2 separate regions of the Homo sapiens genome follow, and region 2 is linked to region 1. The links come from fine-mapping of genetic effects on gene expression. A gene starts in region 1. The other region holds a variant in brackets. All regions are shown on one strand. Distances are from middle to middle. Region 1 holds the start of LINC02975 (long intergenic non-protein coding RNA 2975). Region 2 has its middle 38 kb from the start of LINC01503.

What was found.
Region 2: its variant is fine-mapped to the expression of LINC02975 in spleen (GTEx, PIP above 0.99).

What each region holds. Positions count from the first base shown.
Region 1 is chr9:129,278,280-129,288,040 of GRCh38, reverse strand. It overlaps LINC02975 (long intergenic non-protein coding RNA 2975), which reads right to left and starts at 5,625. Exons shown (of 3, transcript NR_121587.1): 1 at 5,349-5,625; 2 at 4,983-5,111; 3 at 2,322-2,531. RefSeq lists enhancers at 1-446, 1,388-2,361, 2,362-3,335, 9,193-9,761.
Region 2 is chr9:129,369,211-129,380,390 of GRCh38, reverse strand. It overlaps the pseudogene RN7SL159P. Among named protein-coding and RNA genes, the nearest start is that of LINC01503, 38 kb to the right of the region's middle. The variant G/A (reference allele first, on the strand shown) is at 3,424.

The DNA of each region.
Region 1 (9,761 bases):
CCGTGGAGCTGTTGTGTATGAGAACAGTGTGAGGCCGGGTACACAGTTGGTGCTCAGTAAGTCACAGCTGTTTTACAATAATTAAAAAGCATCTCTTGGATCAAACAGCCTGCATCTCAGTCTTCTTCTAATTTGCATTGGTCTTCGCAGAAATTAAGGTGCACTCTGTTCCCGACGATTCCATCTGGCTGGGCTGAGGTGGAGTCCCCTCGATTCCCCAGTGAGGGCTGGGAACCCATCACTCGCTCCAGCAACAGGTATTTATTTATCCAGCGTGTGCTTCATGTCAGGTTCCCTGCTGAGGGCCAGGCACGCATACAGCAGTGGCCTAGACAGACAAGGTCCCCGCCCTCAGCAGCTCTCGGCCTAGCTATTGAGCTTGCCTGACAAGGGGCAAAGAGGGTAGGAGGAGGTGGAGTTGTCAGATTAAATTCAAGATGCTGAGTGTCATTTGAATTTGAGATAATAAAAAAAAATGTTTACTATGTGTATTCCATTCCATATTTGGGATACATTTATACTCACAAGTTATTTGGTACTTATCTGACATTCATATTTAACTGAGTGTGCTTTATTTTATTTTATTTTATTTTATTTTATTTTATTTTATTTTATTTTATTTTATTTTATTATTTTTGGGATACAGTCTCACTCTTTCGCCCAGGCTAGAGTGCGGTGGCGCGATCTCAGCTCACTACAACCTCTGCCTCCCGGGTTCAAGCGATTCTCCTGCCTCAGCCTCCTGAGTAGCTGGGATTACAGGCACATGCCACCATGCCTGGCTAATTTTTGTATTTTTAGTAGAGATGGGGTTTCGCCATGTTGGCCAGGTTAGTCTCGAACTCCTGACCTCAGGGGATCCGCCCACCTCGGCCTCCCAAAGTGTTGGGATTACAGGCCTGAGCCACCGCGCCCAGTCTTTCTTTTATTTTTATTTCTAGATCTTCCAGTGTTTATCCAGCACCTTCTGCAGGAGTCCTTCTACTGAACCACCAGACCCTGTGGGCTCAGGGACAAACACAGGAACAAGCCCACAGGATAATCACACAGGGTGGTCCTGGGAGGGCCTTTGACAAGGTGACTTTGAGCTCAGACCTGATGTGTGTAGAGGAAGAAAAAAGGCATCACTCCATGAGAGAGAAGGAGAGGGATAGGAGACCCGGGTGAGGCAAGGCAGAGAGCTAGTGGCTGCAAAAGAGACAACACTGACCAGGAGGGGAGGGAATGGAGGGCTTTGTGGAGGAGGTAGAATTGAGCCAGGCCCTGAAGGAGGAGCTGGACAGAGAGGAGGTGGTGCAGAGGAACCCTGATTTGGGAGGAGGTAAGCCAGGTGGTAGGCCCCTGAGATACCCATTCTCCAGACACCATCTCTTACAAGGGCCTTTGGTACCCGAGAAAATGCACATGATAAACTGTCAAGCGAAAAATACAAGATACGAAACAGACAGCAGCTGTGGCGTTGCGAGGGGTTGAACTAGACCATCCGACCTAGCATGTAGTAGGCGCTCAATAAACAGGAGATCGATGGAATCATGCTTTTCCGATTTGCAGACAAATGGGGGGATCAGAGGCACCGCCAAGGTGTTCTTCCTTGTTTTGTGGGTATTTTACTAAATGAAACAATGAACGAATTGCTTGAATAGACGTGAGGTTACCGTGACTCCATCCAGAAACCACTTGGTCCAGACTTTGAAGGCAATAAAACAGCAGGAAAAGACAGGCCCTGCCTCCCGGTCCCTGACAGGCGCCGTCACTCTTGAGCCTGTGGTAGGGAGTGCATTTTCAAGTCGCCCGCTGCCTCCCGAGCCTGCCTGCCGGGTCTGCAAGCCTCCAGCCAAGCAGGAGGGATCAGCTCTGCAGCTTCCGACACCCCAGCCCATGTCCTCTCAGCCCACTGGGCCCAAGGCGGGTGTAAAATCCTGGCTCACCAAGCAGAGACTCTGGGAAGAGGCCCAGTGGCCTCCCAGACAGACCAGAGGTCCTGCTCACTGGTGTCCTCCTGTGCGTCCTTGGCAAGTGGCTTCCCCTCTCTGAGCCTTGGTATCCTTGTCTATAAAATGGGGATGGGCATGGGCGTGGTGGCTCACGCCTGTAATCCCAACACTTTGGGAGGCCGAGGCAGGCGGATCACCTGAGGTCAGGAGTTCAAGACCAGTCTGGCCAACGTGGTGAAACCCCGTCTGTACTAAACACACACAAAAATTAGCCAGGCGTGGTGATGGGTGCCTGTAATCCCAGCTACTCAGGAGGTTGAGGCAGGAGAATCACTTGAACCGGGGAGGCGGAGGTTGTAGTGAGCTGAGATTGTGCCACCGCACTCCAGCCTGGGCAACAACAGAGCGAGACTCTGTCTCAAAAAATAAAAATAAAAAATAAAACAGGGATGGATTCTAGTGACGTCATCCTTCATTCATTCACAAAGGTTTGGAGAGAATCTGTTCCCTGCTGGGTGCCACGCTGGGAGTGTGAGGCTCCAGAGGGAAGTTCTTGGACCCCTGGCTGATGCTTTCACATGATCACAGGGGCACATTCTGTAAGATAAATACACAGGGGGTTGTGGCGAGCCCTCAGTGCCTGGAAAGGAAGAGAAAATACAAGGCCTCTTGCATTACTACCTGTGAGCAGAGGGTACCTGGCTCCCAGGTCCCTCCTGATGAAAAGGACCCCAACCTAGACAGACGTCTGTCATGCTTAGAAGGCCCTTCTCAGTCCCTCCAGCTTCTAAGACATTTTATTACTAATAATCACATGCAGGTGATGTTTAACGAGCACTCGCCATGCGTCAGCCTCTGCGCTTCAAGGGGTCCACGTGCACAGACCGTGGCTGGCCCTGCAACTCCAGGTGCAGCAGACACAGCCTCTCTCAGCCCAGCCAGAACCAGGTGCTGGCGACTCCTGGGACCTCTTCCAAGGGGAGGTGGGTTTGGGACACAGGCTGGAGACCAGAGCGGGCCAGGCCCCTTCCCACCATGTCCCCACCCCATAAGACCACCAGTGCCCCTCAGGATACCCAGCCCTGTCCCTTCCCTTTACAGAAAGAGAAGGTGAGTCCCCTAAAGGAGACTCGTGCTCCAGTGCTCTTCCTGAACTCCTCCGGCCACCCTCAGGCCACCCCCTGCCCTCAGACCACCCCCTTCCCTCTTCTCTGCAGTTACCCATCCTGATGCCCACCTGCCAAGCCCAGCAAAGGCCCTCCACAGTCAGCCCAAGATGCTGCCAGACCCAGGACCCGGGGCAGGTGTGCACGGAGCAGGTGTGGATGTGGAGGAAGAGGTGCCCAAAGCTCTGCTCTGAGGCCAGACCTGAGACCTGGGTGCCCAGAGCCTCTCTAGGTCCACCCAGGGGTGCTGGGCCCATGGGAGCAAAGGCTGAGTACTGCGGCCTCCCACCACCCCCCTGCCCCACCTCCACCCTGAAGTGTCCTGTTTAGCGGAATATCAGGTGTCATTGTGTGCCCTGGGGTGCTGACGGGGAGGGGATCACCTGGCCACAGGAGACCCCTGAAGCCTGGGGGAGGGGTCTGCTTCAGCTCCAGTGAGGGCGGGATTCCTGGGGTGAACTCGTGACCTTAAGCATGACCTTGAGCATGACCTTAAGCATGACCTTGAGCGTGACTTTGAGTTGTTGCTCCTTTCAACGCCACACGCACGCCTGATTCCTGGGCCCTTTTCTCTCCCCCAGTCCCTTCCTGCCACACACACTCCTATTTCTCCACATCTTTCCCCTCTAAATGACGGGGTAACCAGAAGTGACACCACAGCCGCTGGACCCCTCACGGCGCGAACATGAAACTGGGCAGGTCTGGGTTTGGCCACCCGTTCCCTGACTTGCTGGCTGTGTGGCCTTATGCAGGTCACTTGCCCTCTCTGAGCCTCAGCTTTCTCGCCTGTAAAGTGAGGGGCACGTGAGCTCCCGCCTTGCAGGGCTGTGTGTGTTGCGGGTGGTCTTGGAAGCCGCACTCAGTGTGGACAGGCAGCAGTGCTCCCATGCAGGTGCCACGTCAATATCATCACGTGGTTCCTGTTTAGGTCCTGCTCATTCCTCCAAGGGCCGAGGCAGCTCCGGGGGAATGGGGAGGGCGTGGCCTCTGCCCTGGTCCTAGCCGGGTCTGCGGCTGCTGGTGTCCACCTGTGGTTCTCAAAGGGTGGTCCTCCTGGCCAGCAGCATTGGCCTTGCCCAGGAACTTGTCAGAAATTCAGATTCTCTGGCCTGGCCAGTCCTGGGAATCAGAACCCCTGGGATGCAACCAGCCACCTGTGCTTTCACGAGGCCCCAGGGGCCTCTCGCAGGCACTGGTGTGAACCAGGAGATCCTGGAGGGTGGCGGCCCATCTTGTGCCCCCTACCCTCACTCCCATCACAGGGTCTGGTCCTCCCATTTCTCCAGTCACTCTGCACTAAACGCTGGACAATGGCCCCTAAGTACAGGCCCTCGTCTGCTAGTTAACAACTGGGGGGCCCAGGTTCTCCAAATGTGGTCCCCAGAGTACCCACACCAGACCACGAGGGAGCCTGACAAAATGCAAGCCCCTGAGTGCCCCCTAGACCGGCTGGGCATGGCTCCCCAAGAATTTGCTCTGGGGACACCCACAAGTCCCAGAACAGGGGGAGGAAAATGAAGGGCACAGGAAAAGCCGGGCCCTGGGGAGGAGATGGAGGAAAAGGGAAGTCAGACAAGATTCCCCAGTGCCAGTGACGGGCACCACTGCCTCCCCAGAGCCACCACAAGCCAGCCGCCCCTTGGCAGCAGGGGTCTGGGAGCCCTTGGCAGTTCAACCCTGTACGGACACCGTTTGAGGGGCTAGAAATAAGCCAGGATGAAATGTTATGAAATAATAATAATAGTCCCTTCTCTGGCCCACTGCAGAACCCTAGAAAGTAAGGGACTGGGGCCAACGGCAGCTGCAGTCAAGGTGCCTGCAGCTATGTGACCCCAGGGCCTAGCCCGCCCCTGCCTCCCGCCCTTCACTTAATTCCAAATACCTTTTCTCTTGTCAGCCGCAAGTCAGTGGGCTTCAAAGTCAGGCGGTGGCTCCCGTGACCCTTTGTGGGGAGGGCAGGGGTGGGCCCAGCTTCTGTGTGTTCTGCTCAGTGGGCCAGGAGGCCCCAGGCCTGCAACGAGAGGGAGGGAGGGAGCTCGGCCTGCCGGTCATTGCTCCGCACCTAGGCCCTTGCAGCTTGGAACGGACCAGCAGCCGGGAACAGCTGGTCCGATCCCACCGCCCTGCTAGGGAGGCTGCCCAAGGTACCCGGAGAGCCTTGGACTGGGGAGCTCAGGGCTGGATGAGCCAGAGCTCCAGGAGAGGAAGGCTGCGCTCACCTGAACTAAAAGTCGTGTTACAATCATACCTGCAGGTGTCAACCTCACTTTCGTTGCAGAGAGGAGGGTCTGGAATCACATGCTCCTCCAGGCAGCATTTTACAGAAAGCTGCCCTGACAGCCACGACGTACTCCCCCACTTCTACCTCTATCTCGGATTCTGTTGCAGAATGTGGCGAGGTATCACAGGGCTGCCAGCCACGGACAGGTTTGAGGGGACCGGAGTAGGGGGTTGCAGGGACGAGCTGGCAGGATCCAAATCCCTCCCGTCAGATGTGTCTCCACCCACAGCTTCCTTTTCCATTGGAGCAAACATAACAAAACAAGTGTCAACTACACTTCCTGATTCCTGAGTTACGAAAAGCCAGTGCCACCCACAGGTCCGTCCACCCCCTCCTCTTGACCCGGCCCTTCCAGTGGCACCTTATTCTGTTATTTGCTCTCTATTTTTCTTTAAAAGCATTCACTGCTATTACTTAGGTAAATGCATCCATAAGGGAACTTTATGTGACTACTGTTAGGTGGAAAAAAAACTAAGATCATGGGCCATAAATAGAAGGTAAAAGTAAAAATAAATTACAATTAAAATAAGCAATGTTAGGAAATTCTAGCTGGCTATTGTTGCCTGCCGATGGCATTTTGATAGAAAAGCGTTGGGGAGTTGCAAGCTTCCCCTCCAGGGGACCAGAGGGCTGAGACAGAGAAGGGAATCACCTTTGTGTGGTATGAGGCTGTGTGATCCCTGACGTCACTGTCTCCTAGGTCACCGAGGGTGCCCACCCCACACTGGGGAAACACTGACCTGAGGGGCACCCCTAAGCCAGTGAACCAGGGGACAGGGCTCCTTGCGAGGCAAGGACCAGATGGCATTTAACGCTGATAGGCACTATCATGACCTCCTGGGCATGAAACAGGTACCTCCCTGGTCCTTTTTCCAGAAGAGGTTGCAGAAGCCCTCTGGACAGGCCTGGCTCATGTCCTCCTGCTGGAGCGGGCTGACATAGCCCTCAGCCCTCCACTCCCAGCGTGGCCCGTCCGCTCTCCACAGATGTGCCACGCTTTCTCTAGGGTCCCCGCCCTGGGATTCCCTCCCGACCTGGCACATCTCAGTCAACCCCACCTGCCTTCCAGGTCCCCTCCGCCAGCCCTCGGCGGCCTCTCTGGGGCAGGACAGCATCCTCCTGAGGACCATGATGTCTGTAGTACTGTTCTGCCATCCGGAACTTCTCGTAAGTGGGACCCCACTGACCACCCTCTCGATTTCTAAGTGAAGCCAGAGAGTTGGATCACAATTATCCCCTGTGCCAATAATTTCCTTTATGAGAAATGCAGTTGTAAGTCTTAGAAAGGGACATGTGAATTAAAACAGGCAGTCACGCAGAACAAGGGGGAGGGAACGCATGAGGGTGCCAGGAGGTCCCCAAATTGTCCTCCAGGTGGAGACCAGCTGGGATGGCGGTGACGTCTCACCTGCACCAGGACTGGCAGCTCTGTCACATCCCCACAACACAGGGCCCTGGCAGGCCTCACTCTGCACTGGCTGGCTGTATCTGGGGCACAGACACACGGGCTGGTGGCGTATGTCACAGGTGGCAAATGTGTCACTTGGCCTCAAGACTCCCTGCATGCAGTGGAGACAGTGAGGCCTCTGTCCACACAGGCCCCAGCTGGGCCATGACCCGCTCTTGAGGCCCATCCCTTACCCTGACCTCACAGCTTCCCTGGTTGCCTTCCAGGGTCAGCAGAGCAGCCTGGATGCACTCAGAAGCCCCGGGGGACTCAGGCCACTCTCCCTGAGACCCAAGAGCATCCCCCTGCAGCTTGTGATGAGCCCTGGGTAGGGAAAAGGTGACACAAGGGGGCTCATAGCCACCACCAGGTCCAGCTGGGCCAGGGCACTCATCCCAGTCTATGGGGAGAGTCCACCTTGGCTCCAGCTGGCAGGATGAATTAGGAAATGAGAGCCAGCCCTTTGCAGCCTAGAGCAGTGGCTCAGGCAGGGCCTGGCCAGGGGCTGTGGGCAGGAGTGTCTGAGGCTGGAGGAGCAGCCCCCAGGCATCCCATCGCACTCCCTCAGGGCATCCGAGGAATCCCACCTTGACTCCTCTCGGTCTTAGCTCCAAAGCCACGTCCAAGCAGGTGAAACAGGAAGCCCCCTCCCCAAGGGGCTTTCTAGGGCAGAATGCCTGAAAGATCAGGGCAATCACCACAAACACAGATGGAAATCGGAAAGCCGGCTCCTAAAACATCTCAGGGCTCCACGCTAACACGGAGACAGGAGAGGACCACGGGTGGGGCAGGGGTTTTAATGCTGCCCAGATCTGGGTGCAAGTCTCAGTGCCACCCCGTGCCAGCCATGTGGCTTTCAGCAAGTGACTTCCCTTCTGTGAGCCTGTTTCTGCATCTGCCAAATAGGCCTGATGATAGCACTGACCAAGCACAGGCTTTCTGTGAATTTTCATACATTTGTATGGAGGGTGCACAATACCTGGGATGTATAGATGAAATTTGTATAGGTGGTCGCAGTTATTACTATTATTATTATTATTTACAGACAGGATCTTGCTCTGTCACCCAAGCTGGAGGGCAGTGGCACCATCACAGCTCACTGCAGCCTCAACCTCCTGGGTTCAAGTGATCCTCCCATCTCAGCCTCCCAAAGTGTCGGGATTACAGGCATGAGCCACCGTGCCCAGTTTGCAATGATCATTACTGAATATCACGTACATACGTGTATTGGCAGGTGTTAAACGTGTAAGATACTTTTAAGTAAAGAAACTTAAAACAGACTATTTCTATGAGTTAGTTTAATTTAGTCTATAGATGAGAAGATATATACACAGTTCTGTTTCATTTCAGCTCCTGGAACAAGGGCCTGTCTGCCCACTCTTATAAGACAGATGTATCTCTCCATCCTGGCACCGCCCAGCCACCACCCCCTCCCAGGCCATGGGCCCTGCTGCATCCCCCCGTGGCCCTAACCAGGGACCTTTCTTCTTTGTTTTCTTTTCTTTTATTTATTTATTTTTTAACACAGAGTCTCCCTTTGTCGCCCAGGCTGGAGTGCAGTGGCACGATCTCGGCTCACTGCAACCTCTGCCTCCCGGGTTCAAGTGATTCTCCTGCCTCAGCCTCCTGAGTAGCTGGGATTACAGGCGCCCGCCATCACACCCGGCTAATTTTTGTATTTTTAGTAGAGACGGGGTTTCACTATGTTGGCCAGGCTGGTCTGGAACTCCTGACCTCAGGTGATCCACCCACCTTGGCCTCCCAAAGTGCTGGGATTACAGGCATGAGCCACCGCGCCCGGCCTGTTTTCTCATTTGTGAAGATGCAGGGCTGCTGTGAGGACTGGGTGAGAGGCGCACCTGGCACGTAGCAGGTTCTCACTGGGCGAGTTGCCCCCAAGCCCCAGCGACAAGCCCAGCCAAGGCCCCCGCTCCCCGCCTGGGGAGGTCAAAGGGGCAGGTGGGAAATTGAAACCCGAGATGAATGGCCATTCTGCAGCTGGAGTCCAGAAAGATTCTGGGCATGGGAGCATCACTGGAAAAGGAAATGTGGGGCCCTTGCCCAGGGGAGGGACCGGGGGGGGGGTTCTAGATCCAGCTCTGCCCCCACCCAGGTCACCTCGCTGGCTACAAATGACGACCCCAAGTGGTGCAATGTAGATGTCCAAAGTGAGAAGCAAGGCTTGTGCAAGGCTGTGTGGGGGTTACCTGGGGGTTTGATCTCGGTACCATGAGTGACTCCCAGAATGAGACAATGTCTGCCCCTTCTGCAGGGCAGATGTGAGGAGCCTGAGGGACCTGCTCCCAGGCCACCAGCTCTTTGTGCAAATCTTGGTTTTCTGGTGCTTGGTTGGCTGGAAGAAGAGTGTGGCTGGATTGGGGGCGTGGTCTCTGCTCCCTCAGCCCCACCCACCAGGTGGGGGAAATGGAGGAGAGGGACCCACAGGAGGGTGGTCAGGGCAGCTAGAAGAGATTTGCTCAGGTACCACAGACCCTTGGTCCCTGGAGCACCCCTCTCTGCTAGGAGAGTTGGCAACCAGAACCAACAGTTTTCAAGGCTGCACACCTGGTGGAGGTTGTTGCGGGGGTTGGCCAGGTGCAGGCCCAGGCAGGCAGGGAAGCGCGGAGGCTGGGCTGGGCTGGGTTCCAAGGCAGGGCGGAGCCTCCCAGGGAAGCCGCAGTCACCCATCCGTCACTTATTCATCCATCAAATATGTACCGATGCATGGCCTGGGTGCCGAGACACCCACGACCAGACAGACACAGCCCTGCCTTCCTGGGGCCTGTGATGGGGTCAGCCACGTAGGTCAGTCAGGCCTGGTGGGCAGCAGCTAGGACTTTGCATCTTCCTCTCCGCAAGCCCCTGGGGGGTTCTGAGCCGGCAAGAGATGGGATTTGACTTGCATTTTAAAAGGGTCTTTTAGCTTCTGTGTG
Region 2 (11,180 bases), 92 kb before region 1:
CCCAGAGACTGATCAGTGGACCATCTTGGCATCCATGCCAATTGGCAGGAGTAGCCATGGTGTGACTGCACTGCACAGAAAAATAATAGTTCTTGGAGGCCTTTGTTATAATAGTTATCTCAGGGATTCCATTCTTGCTTTTGATCTGGATGAAAACAAATGGAAGAAAGATGAGTGCCCTCGGATGCCCTGCAAGCTGGATGCAACCTGCATTTTCTGGACCATGTACAGGGCAAAGTCAGATGCTGTAACTAATGATATCCTTCTCCCCGCCGCCCCCCGCCCCCGCCAAAAAAAGCAAAGTATTTGTTTGTGATAAAGTAGTTAATTAAAAAAAATAAAGAAAAAAATTAACTGGATGTGATGGCGCACAGCTGTGGTCCTAGCTACTTGGGAGGCTGAGGCAGGAGCATGGCTTGAGCCCAGGAGGTTGAGGTTGCAGTGAGCCGTGATCGTGTCACTGCTCTCAGCCTGCATGACAGAGTGAGACCCTGTCTCAAAAAATACAAGGCAGAAAGGTAGGCTGCAGGATGCAGGTCAGGGGGAGAGCAAAACGTGAGAGAAAGATATGTTAACTCCTTGCACACAGAGTGTGCACAGGTAAACATATACATGCACACGCTGGCATATAAAAATGCATGCACCTTGGCATGGACATGTGAACGCACACCTGCACACACAAGCAAGCACTGTATGCATGTGCGTGCACACACAAACACACACACATGGATTCACATGAATGCAACACACCACGTGTGTGCCTAGGGGTACACACATGCTGCACGTGCACGTGGACACCAACGCAGTACACGCACACTGAACCCCAAAGCAGGCCATCTGCACATTTCTTTCCTTAGCAATGATCATGGTTCATTCATTCATGCAATAAATGTATGTTGAGCCATTTTTGGTGCCAGGCCAGGCAACGGGCAATGCAGACTGAGCCAGGAGGGCCCCACAGTCCCAGCCCGATTGCCCCAGAGGAGCTCATAGACTAGACCGGGGGCAGGGAGGGGAGCAGACGGTAAGCAGGGAATTAAGCTCTCGTAGGGCATTTGTTCCTGTTGCCCTGGAACAGAAGCACAGAGAGCTCTGGGGCCTGAGAGCCATCTGTGGGGGCTGCCGGAATGAGCAGGAGTGAGGGGTCCAGGGTTTGGGCACATGACATGTCGGGAAGGGATCTGGCCAGGAAAGAAGAGGCTGGGGTGAGGCTCAGACAGGCCTAGCAAATGTAGAGTCTGGGTTTACTGACCCGATAGGCCCAGGAGCATTCCTTTTCCACCCCCTGCACCCACTGTGAGCTCCTGAGGGAGCCTCGGCTGCCCCCTCTCTGTCCCCACCCACTCATCTCCCAGTGCCCAGAACAGGTGAGTGCCTTTCAAATACGAGACTGCCTCTTGAATACAAGATTCTGTTCTGCAGTTGACACAAACAATGCCGTTTTGCCCTCTCCATCCACCTCTTCCCCGCCCCCACCACGAACACACGCAGCCCTCGGTTTCCCCATCTGGGCAATGGGTGTGTACCAGCCCCTCCTCACAGAGCTGTGAACTGAGTTAGTGGGAGACTGTGTTTCACAGAGGAGGTTGCACCGCTCCTTGCTCCTCTAGGCAAAGAGCAGCCCCTCGGAGGAAGCCCACGACACCCCCTCCCTGATGCAACCCTGGATGCTCACCCATCTCCCACCACACACGTGTATGTAACCCCCCGACTCCACACCTCACATAGACCCCCACCACACCTACCCTCCACCACTCCCCACGCCCCCCAACACACACACACACTCGCCGCCCTGGGCAGCCCAGCCAGTCTCGCCTTCCCCCGCTGAGCCCCCCTCAAATCCTGGACCCGGCAGTGACAAGCAGGCGCGGCCCGCGGCCACCCCCACCCCTGGCTGCAGGGCTGTGTTCATTGATCCGAAGATGCTCTTTCCTTTTCCTCAGGCGCTTCTCTGAAGGATGGAAAAATCGATGCCCGCAGAAGCACAGGTGCAGGGAAGGTACGGACAGTGCTGGGGAGAAGACCAAGGGCAGGGGAGAGCCAGACGCCGGGGTCCAGGCCGGCTGGGCTGCAGCGGGCTCTTTCTCACCTCCCAGAACCACCTCAGAGGCAGGCGTGGTCAGTCCAACCGCCAGCGCTGTTTTGTCTTTTAATATTTTGCCCTGACGACAAGAGCTGTATGTGCTCATTGTAGAAAATAAAAATCACTGAATCCATCCCCAGAGGTAACCTCCCTGCTAACGTGCACAGTAAATCCTTCCAGGCTTTTTTTCTCTGCACACTGAATGTGCTTTTTATTTTTGCAAAAATGGTACGTGCTCGACTGCTTTTTCCACCCAACACTATGCCACCGACATCCTTCTGTGTAAAGACCTGTCGTCAGCATCTTGGTATCTGAAGGCTGCACCATGATCTGTCTTGTTGGGTGGTAAAGGCATAGCACAAGGGTTAGGGTCAGAATCTTGGCCCCTTGCTATGTGACCTTGGACTGGTGGCTACACCCTCTGACCTCAGTGTGGTCCTCTTCTGGGAGATGGGGTTACTAAAGCCTGCGTTATAGCATTGTGGTGAGAATTACATAAGAAAACGGGCAGGAAGCACTCCTTTCATGTGGAGTCCGTCGAAAGCACACTATTGGCTGTGGCTATGATTATTTTTAATCTTTATCATTATACAGCTAAACAATTGTTTATTCAATCCATCCTATTATTGAACATATAGGTTGTTTACTCAACTTCCTTTAAAGAAGAAGGCTGCGGTGAATGTCCTTGCTAAGGGATCTTTGACAAATTCTCAATTATTAATCTTGAGAAATTTCTAGAAGGAAAGAGATGCACGTTTTAGGGCCTGTGCTACATTCTGCCAAATTACCCTCCAAAATGTCCCGATGACACTCTGTATTGGCTTCCTAGGGCTGTCAGACAAATGACCACGCACTCGATGGCTTAAAACAACAGAAATTCATTCTCTCACAGCTCTGGAGGCTCAAAGCCCAACATCGAGCTGTCATCAAGGCTGCATTCCCTCCCAAGATTAGAGGGAAGAATGCTTCTTTGCATTTTCCAGCTTTTCTCAGGGCTGGTATTCCTGACTGGTGGACTCATCACTCCAGTCTCCTCCTCTATCTGTCTGTCTGTCTTCTCCCCAAGTGTCTTATTCCAGGATAACCTCCTCATTTCAAGATCTTTAACTTGGCCAGGCAAGGTGGCTGACACCTGTAATCCCAGCACTTTGAGAGGCAGAGGTGGGAGGATTGCTAGAGCTCAGGAGTTTGAGAACAGCCTGGACAACACAGTGACACCCCCCATCTCTACAAAAAATAGAAAAATTAGCTGGACATAGTGGCACACACCTGCTTTCCCAGCTACTCAGGAGGCTGAAGTGGGAGGATTGCTTTGGTCCTGGAGTTTGAGGCTGCAGTGA[G/A]CTATGATTGTATCACTGCACTCCAGCCTGGATGACAGAGTGAGAACCTGACTCAAAAAAAAAAAAAAAAAATCCTGGCTGGGAGTGGTGGCTCACGCCTATAATCCCAGCACTTGGGGAGGCTGAGGCGGGTGGATCACCTGAGGTCAGGAGTTTGAGATCAGCCTAGCCAACATGGTGAAACTCCATCTCTACTAAAAGTACAAAAAATTAGCCGGATGTGGTGGCGCACGCCTATAGTCCCAGCTACTCAGGAGGCTGAGGCACGAGAATCATTTAAGCCCAGGAGGTGAAGGTTGCAGTGAGCCGAGATCGCGCCATTGCACTCCAGCCTGGGCAAAAAGAGCAAAACTCCATCTCAAAATAAATAAATAAATAAATAATTCTTACCTTAATTACATTGACAAAATGTACCTTTTTCCAAATAAGACAGCAGGCGCGGTGGCTCCTGCTTATAATCCCAGCACTTTGGGAGGCCAAGATGGGAGGATTGCTTGAGGTCAGGAGTTTGAGACCAAGGGAAGAGGGATTCTGTAGAACCCCTTTTCCTTCACCACACAGGATATTTTAATCTTTTTGAAATTTTTGGCCAATTTGATAGGGTAAAAGGATAACTTGTTTTAACATGTATTTCTTTTGTTGTTAGTGAAGATGAACCTACTCTCATATGCTTGTTGGCTTTTTTTATTTCTTATTTTGTGAATTACTAATTCATGTCCTTTGCATATGTCCCTATTAGGTATTCACTGTCTTCTAATGGATATGTGAGAGCTCTTTGTAGATGCAGGATATTGAGCCTTTATCATCTCTTGTAAATATCTTCTTAATTGGTCACTTACTTTTTAGGGCTTTTTTTCGTAGTTCTTCCATGTACATAACTTTCAAACTTTTTCGTAGCAAAGCTTCAGGAGGATTTTACCATCCGTTGAATAATTAAACAGGCCTTTCCCATCACATTCTTTTCATCTAGCACTTTTATAGTTCCACTTTTATATTTAAGTTTTCGTTTTGTCTGCAATTTATTTTAGTTATGGTGTATGTTAAGGCTAACAGCCTCCCTCCGCCCCCAGATATTGAACAGTTGTCTTAATACCATTTAATAAATAGCTCATCTTTTCCCTACTGATTTTAAATGATGTCTTTATCATCTATTAAATTTGACTAACCTAACCTAGCAGACTGAGCTAATGTTGACACTGCTCCTGCTGAGGAATATGGACAAAATTTAACAACAACAACAAAAAAAAATTGATCTTGAAAGAAAAAATGGGAGATCACCCAGTACTGGAGTTTGGGAGGAGGCAACTGGAGCAAGAAGCCATTCTGTAGCTGAGAACCCAACAAAAAGCAAGATCCTCGCTGAACAGGAGCTCACAGCTAAAAATGCAAACCGCAAAATGAACTGATCCTCAACAGGGAGTGTCAGCAGACAAAACAAGAAGAGGATTAGACCACCAAGAAATTGGGATAAGAGCACACTCCGAAAGAGACTACAAAAGAAGTGTGCTTTAAATTATTAAAAGAAAAAAAATAAGAAAATGAAAAGACACCATGAAAAAAGAGGCAGCCAGCCCTAGTGGCTCACGCCTATAATTCCAGCACTTTGGGAGGCCAAGGCAGGCGAATCATTTGAGGTCAGGAGTTCAAGACCAGCCTGGCCAACATGACGAAACCCTGTCTCTATGAAAAGTATAAAAATTAGCCAGGCATGGTGGTGAGCGCCTGTAGTCCCAGCGGCCACTCAGGGGTCTGAGTTGGGAGGATGGCTTGAGCCTGAGAGGCAGAGGTTGCAGTGACCCGAGATCACGCCACTGCACTCTAGCCTGGGTGATAGAGCCAGACCTTGTCTCAAAAATAGAAAACAAAAGAAAAGAAAACAACACAAACAAAAATAAGAGGCAAAGTTGAAGGAAAAACAAAGATCTTCTTGAAAGGAAAACCGTAGCCACTGAAAATAAATTTCAATGCCTTGGTTAAATAGCAGATAAGACGCAGCTGAAGAAGTGTTCATGAACTGAAAGACAGAACTGAGGAAATTACCCAGAATGTAGCCCACAAAGATAAAGAGGGCCAGATGGAGTGACTCATGCCTATAATACCAGCACTTTGGGAAGTCAAGGCAGGAGGATCACTTGAGACCAGGAATTTGAGACCAACCTGGGCAACATAGCAAGACTCCCTGTCTCTACAAAAAAATTTTAAAAATTAGCTGGGTGTGGTGGCACATGCCTTTAGTCCTAGCTACTGGGGAGGCTTGAGGCAGGAGGATTGCTTGAGCCCAGGAGTTCAAGGTTACAGTGAGCTGTGATCACACCACTGCACTCCCACCTGGGCAACAGAGTGAGATGCTGCCTCTAAAAAAATTTTTTTAAAGAAACAAAGATAAAGAGATAAATAATAAAAATAGAAACACATTGAAAAGAATAAAAGAGTCCAACATATGGCTTAGAGAAGACCTGGAAAGAGATAGATTATAAGGAGGATGGAAAAGAGATCATATTCAGCATGATAATGTCTGAGAATATTCCAGAATTGATGAAAGACACAATTCCTCAAATTTAAGAAGTGCATCAGGCTGGGCACGGTGGCTCACACCTGTAATCCCAATACTTTGGGAGGATGAGGTGGGAAGATAGCTTGAGCCCAAGAGTTTGAGACCAGTCCTGGCAACATAGTGAGACCTCGTCTCTACAAAAAATTAAAAAGTCAGCCAAGAGCAGTGGCGCAAAAAAAAAAAAAAATGCATCAACCACAAGAAGGATAAATAATAGTGAACCAAACCCAATTATCTATACCAAATATGTAATCCTAAAGACAAAGAAAATGACTTAAACCAGAAAAGAAGAAGAGATTATCTAACAGCATCCATAATAAAGACATATAATGGTGTTCTGAGTACATTGACTCTTTAAGTCCTCAAAACAACACTATTAGTGTTATTTTTATTTTATTTTATTTATTGAGACAGGGTCTCACTCTATCACCCAGGCTGGAGTGCAGTGGCATGATCACAGCTCACCACAGCCTTGACCACCCAGGTTCAGGTGATCCTTCCACCTCCTCCCAAGTAGCTGGGACCACTGGTGGCACGCACCACCAGGCCCGGCTAGTTTTTGTATTTTTTGTAGAGATAGGGTTTCGCCATGTTGGCCAGGCTGGTCTTGAACTCCTGACCTCAAGTGATCCACCTGCTTCAGCCTCCCATAGTGCTGGGATTACAGGCTTAAGCCACCGCACCCAGCCAACTATTAATGTTATTATCCACATTTTAAAGATGAAAAAATCAAGCGACAAAAAGCTTAAGTAATCTTTATTAGTTAATGCTACTTAATTTTTGTTACAATAATGACCCCTGAAGAATTTGGCCAGGCGTGGTAGCTCATACCTGTAATCCCAACGCTTTGTGCGGCCGAGGCAGGCAGACTGCTTGAGCTCAGGAGTTCGAGACCAGCCTAGGCAACATGATGAAACCCCATTTCTACAGAAAGTACAAAAATTAGCAGGGTGTGGTGACATACGCCTGTGGTCCCAGCTACTTGGGAGGCTGAAGTGGGAGGATTGCTTGAGCCCAGAAGGTCGAGGCTGTAGGGATCTGTATTGCACCACTACACTCTAGCCTGAGCCAACAGAATGAGATCCTGTCTGAAAAAGAAAAAAAAAAAATCGGCCAGGCGCAATGGCTCATGCCTGTAATCCCAGCATTTTGGGAGGCCGAGGTGGGCGGATCACAAGGTCAGGAGTTTGAGACCAGCTTGGCCAATTTGGTGAAACCCCATCTGTACTAAAAATACAAAAATTAGCTGGGCATGGTTGTGGGTGCCTGTAGTCCCAGCTACTTGGGAGGCTGAGGCAGGAGAATCACTTGAACCCGGGAGGCGGAGATTGCAGTGAGCCAAGGTCGCACCACTGCACTCCAGCCTAGGCGACAAAGCAAGATTCTGTCTCAAAAACAAAAACAAAACAAAACAAAAATCACACTTCCCTATGACTTTGCTACTCCTCCCCTTAAGAGGATACTCTTGCCACAGAGTGAGAAGCTGAGTCCTTTTCAACCCCTTTTGAATCTGGAATGGCCTTGAGATCTCACCAATGGAGGGTAGCAGAGATGATGTTATGCCTCTTTCAAAGCCAGGCCTTAAGAAGCTGCAAGACTTCTACCTTTGCTATCTTAGAACAAACAATTACACGACAAGAAGCCCAGTGTAGGCAGGGCACAGTGGCTCACACTTGTAATCCAAGCACTTTGGGAGGTCAAGGCAGGTGGATTGCTTGAGTCCAGGAGTTCAAGACCAGCCTGGGCAACGTGGCAAGACATCGTCTCTACTAAAAATAAAATAAAATAATCAGTCAAACCTGGTGGCATACACCTGTGGTCCCAGCTACTTGGGAGGCTGAGGCGGGAGAATCACTTGAGCCCTAGAGGCAAAGGTTGCAGTGAACTGTGATTGTGCCACCACACTCCAGCCTGGGCAACAGAGTGAGACCCTATCTCAAAAAATAAAAAATAAAAAGAAGCCTAGTGTAGATTCTGTTGGAAGGGAACCACCCATTAGATGGCCAACACCACCTGCCAGGCATAGCAGTGAGTTCATCTAGAACCCTCCACCCCAGGTGTTATGGGCTGAATTACATCATTTCCTGCCCCCCTGCCTTGCCACAAATTCACATGTTGAAGTCCTAACCCCACTACTTCAGAATGTGATTTTATTAGGATCGAGGGCCTTTTTTTTTTTTTTTTTTTTTTGAGACGGAGTCTCGCTCTGTCGCCCAGGCTGGAGTGCAGTGGCGTGATCTCGGCTCACTGCAACCTCTGCCTCCCAGGTTCAAGTGATTCTCCTGCCTCAGCCTCCCAAGTAGCTGGTATTACAGACGCGTGCCACCATGCCTGGCTATTTTTTTGTATTTTTGGTAGAGATGGAGTTTCACCGTATTAGCCAGGATGGTCTCAATCTCCTGACCTTGTGATCCACCCGCCTTGGTCTCCCGAAGTGCTGGGATTACAGGCGTGAGCCACCATGCCCGGCCGATAGAGGGCTTTTAAAGACATAATTAAGGTAAAACGAGGTCATATAGGTGGGCCCTAAGCTAATGTGACTAATATTAGGGCCAGGTGCAGTGGCTCACTCCTGTAATCCCAGCACTTTGGGAGACAGAGGCGGTTGAATCACGAGGACAAGGTCAGATCGAGACCATCCTGGCTAACACGGTGAAACCCCGTCTCTACTAAAAAATACAAAAAATTAGCTGGGCGTGGTGGCGGGTGCCTGTAGTCCCAGCTACTTGGGAGGCTGAGGCAGGAGAATGGTGTAAACCCGGGAGGCAGAGCTTGCAGTGAGCCGAGATGGCACCACTGCACTCCAGCCTGGGCAACAGAGCAAGACTCCATCTCAAAAAAAAAAAAAAAAAGAGAGATTAGCACACAGGCAAGCACTGTGTGCAGATGCTGAAAGAAAGGGGCATCTGTAAGCCAAGGAGAGAAGAAACCAACTGTGCCAATATCTTGACCTGGGACTTCTATCGTCTAGAATTGTGAGAAAATACCTTTCTGTTATTTATTTATTTATTTATTTATTTTATTTATATTGAGACAGAGTCTTGCTCTATCGCCCAGACTGCAGTGCAGTGGTACGATCACGGCTCATGGCAACCTCCACCTCCTGGGGCTCAAGTGATTCTCCCACCTCAGCCTCTTGAGTAGCTGGGACCACAGGTGCATGCCCCCACTCCTGGCTAGGTTTTATTTTGTATTTTTATAGAGACTGGGTTTCACCATGTTGCCCAGGCTGGTCTCAAACTCCTGGGCTCAAGCGGTCTTCTTGCCTCAGCCTCCCAAAGTGCTGGGATTACGGGTGTGAGCCACCGTGCCCAGCAGCTTTCTGTTTTTAACCCACCCAGCCTGTGGTATCTTGTTAAGGCAGCCCTAGCAAACGAATATATCATTCAAACCGCAGGTGAGAGCAGCCATGTGAAAGACCCCAGGCAAGACTAGCAGAAGAGCTGCCCAGCTGAGCCCAATCCAAATTGCAGAATTGTGACTGTAGATAACCAGGCACAAATTCACAAAATGATGAATGGCAGGGCCAGGACTTGGACCCAGGCAGCTCAGGAGTCCAGGACACATGCCTTCACCACTGGCACGAAGCCCACAAAGAAACAGCGAAGCCCATCAGCAATGACAGAGGACAAAAATGTAATTATCATCTCTTCAAGAGGACGAAGGAAAATATTTGTCAACCAAAACTGTCTTTCAGCTCAACTGTCTTTCAAGGGCAAGGGCAAAATAAAGACATTTCAGACAAAGACTGAGGAACTTTACCACTCACAGCTCTTTGCTGAAAGAGCTAGTAAAAGATGACCTAAGGAAGAAGGGAATCAAGCCCTGTACCAAGCACATTCTGCAAGAAGCAATGAATGGAGATATGGAAACATGGGTAAAATCTAAATAAGAGCTGGCCGTAAAATCAACAATCATAATTACCAGTGGTGGATTAAAACAAGGTGGAACTGCCGGGCACAGTAGCACATGCCTGTAGTCCCAGCTCCTCAGGAGGCGGAGCAGGAGGATCATTTGAGGCCAGGAGCTCTGGGCTGAAGTTGACTATGCCAGTTGGGTGCTGGTGCTAAGCTCTGCATCAATATGACGACCTGCCAGGAGGCCACCAGGTTACCCAAAGAGGGGTGAACTGGCCCAGGTTGGAAACAGAGCAGGTAAAAATTCCTGTGCTAATCAGTATTGGGGTGCAGCCTATGAATAGCTATTGCACTCCAGCCTGGGCAACATAGCAAGGCCCTGTTTCTAAAAAAATAAAAAATAAAGAAAAGGTGGAACTAAATATTAGGCAATCATAATATAGTGTTTGGAAGGTGTCACTGGAGTCAAATCACTCCAAGATCTTGTACTATCTAGCAGGAGGGTGAAAAATAGTGATTTTGATTATAAGTCAATTTTTTTTTTTTTAGACGGAGTTTTGCTCTGGTTGCCCAAGTTGGAGTGCAATGGTATGATCTCGACTCACTGCAACCTCCACCTCCCAGGCTCAAGCGATTCTTCTGCCTCAGGCTCCTGAGTAGCTGGGATTACAGGCATCCACCACCATGCCCGGCTAATTTTTTGTGTTTTTAGTAGAGATGGGGTTGCTCCATGTTTGTCAGGCTGGTCTTCAACTCCTGACCTCTGGCGATCTGCCTGCCTAGGCCTCCCAAAGTGCTGGGATTACAGGTGTGAGCCACTGTGCCCAGCTGAAGATTATTAAAAAATTTTATGCATGATAAAAACCTAAAGATAATCTCTAAAAGGCATAAAAGGAATGTGTAACTTTCAAACCAATAAAGGGAAAAGGTGAGAAATAAAGAAACACAATCAATCTGATAGCAAAAAAGAGGAGGGAGGGAGAGGGGAAAGCTGTGGGTGTTTTGTATGTTGATTTTACAACTGGCTACTTTGGTAGAATGCTTTCATTATTTAATAGTTTTTCATTTGCTTCCCTTGGATTTTCAAGTGGACAATTATAATATCCACAAGTAAGGATAATTTGTCTCCTTTTTAGTGGCTGTCCTTTAATTTGTGTTTCTTGTCTTATTGCATTGTCCAGAACTTTCACAGCAATATAGCATTATAGAGCATATATAAAGCATCCTTGCCACGTTCAAGACATTGCTAAGAATGCTTCCAGTACTTTTTAAATTTTATGTTATTATTTATTTATTTATTTATTTTGAGACAGAGTCTCGCTCTGTCGCCCAGGCTGGAGTACAGT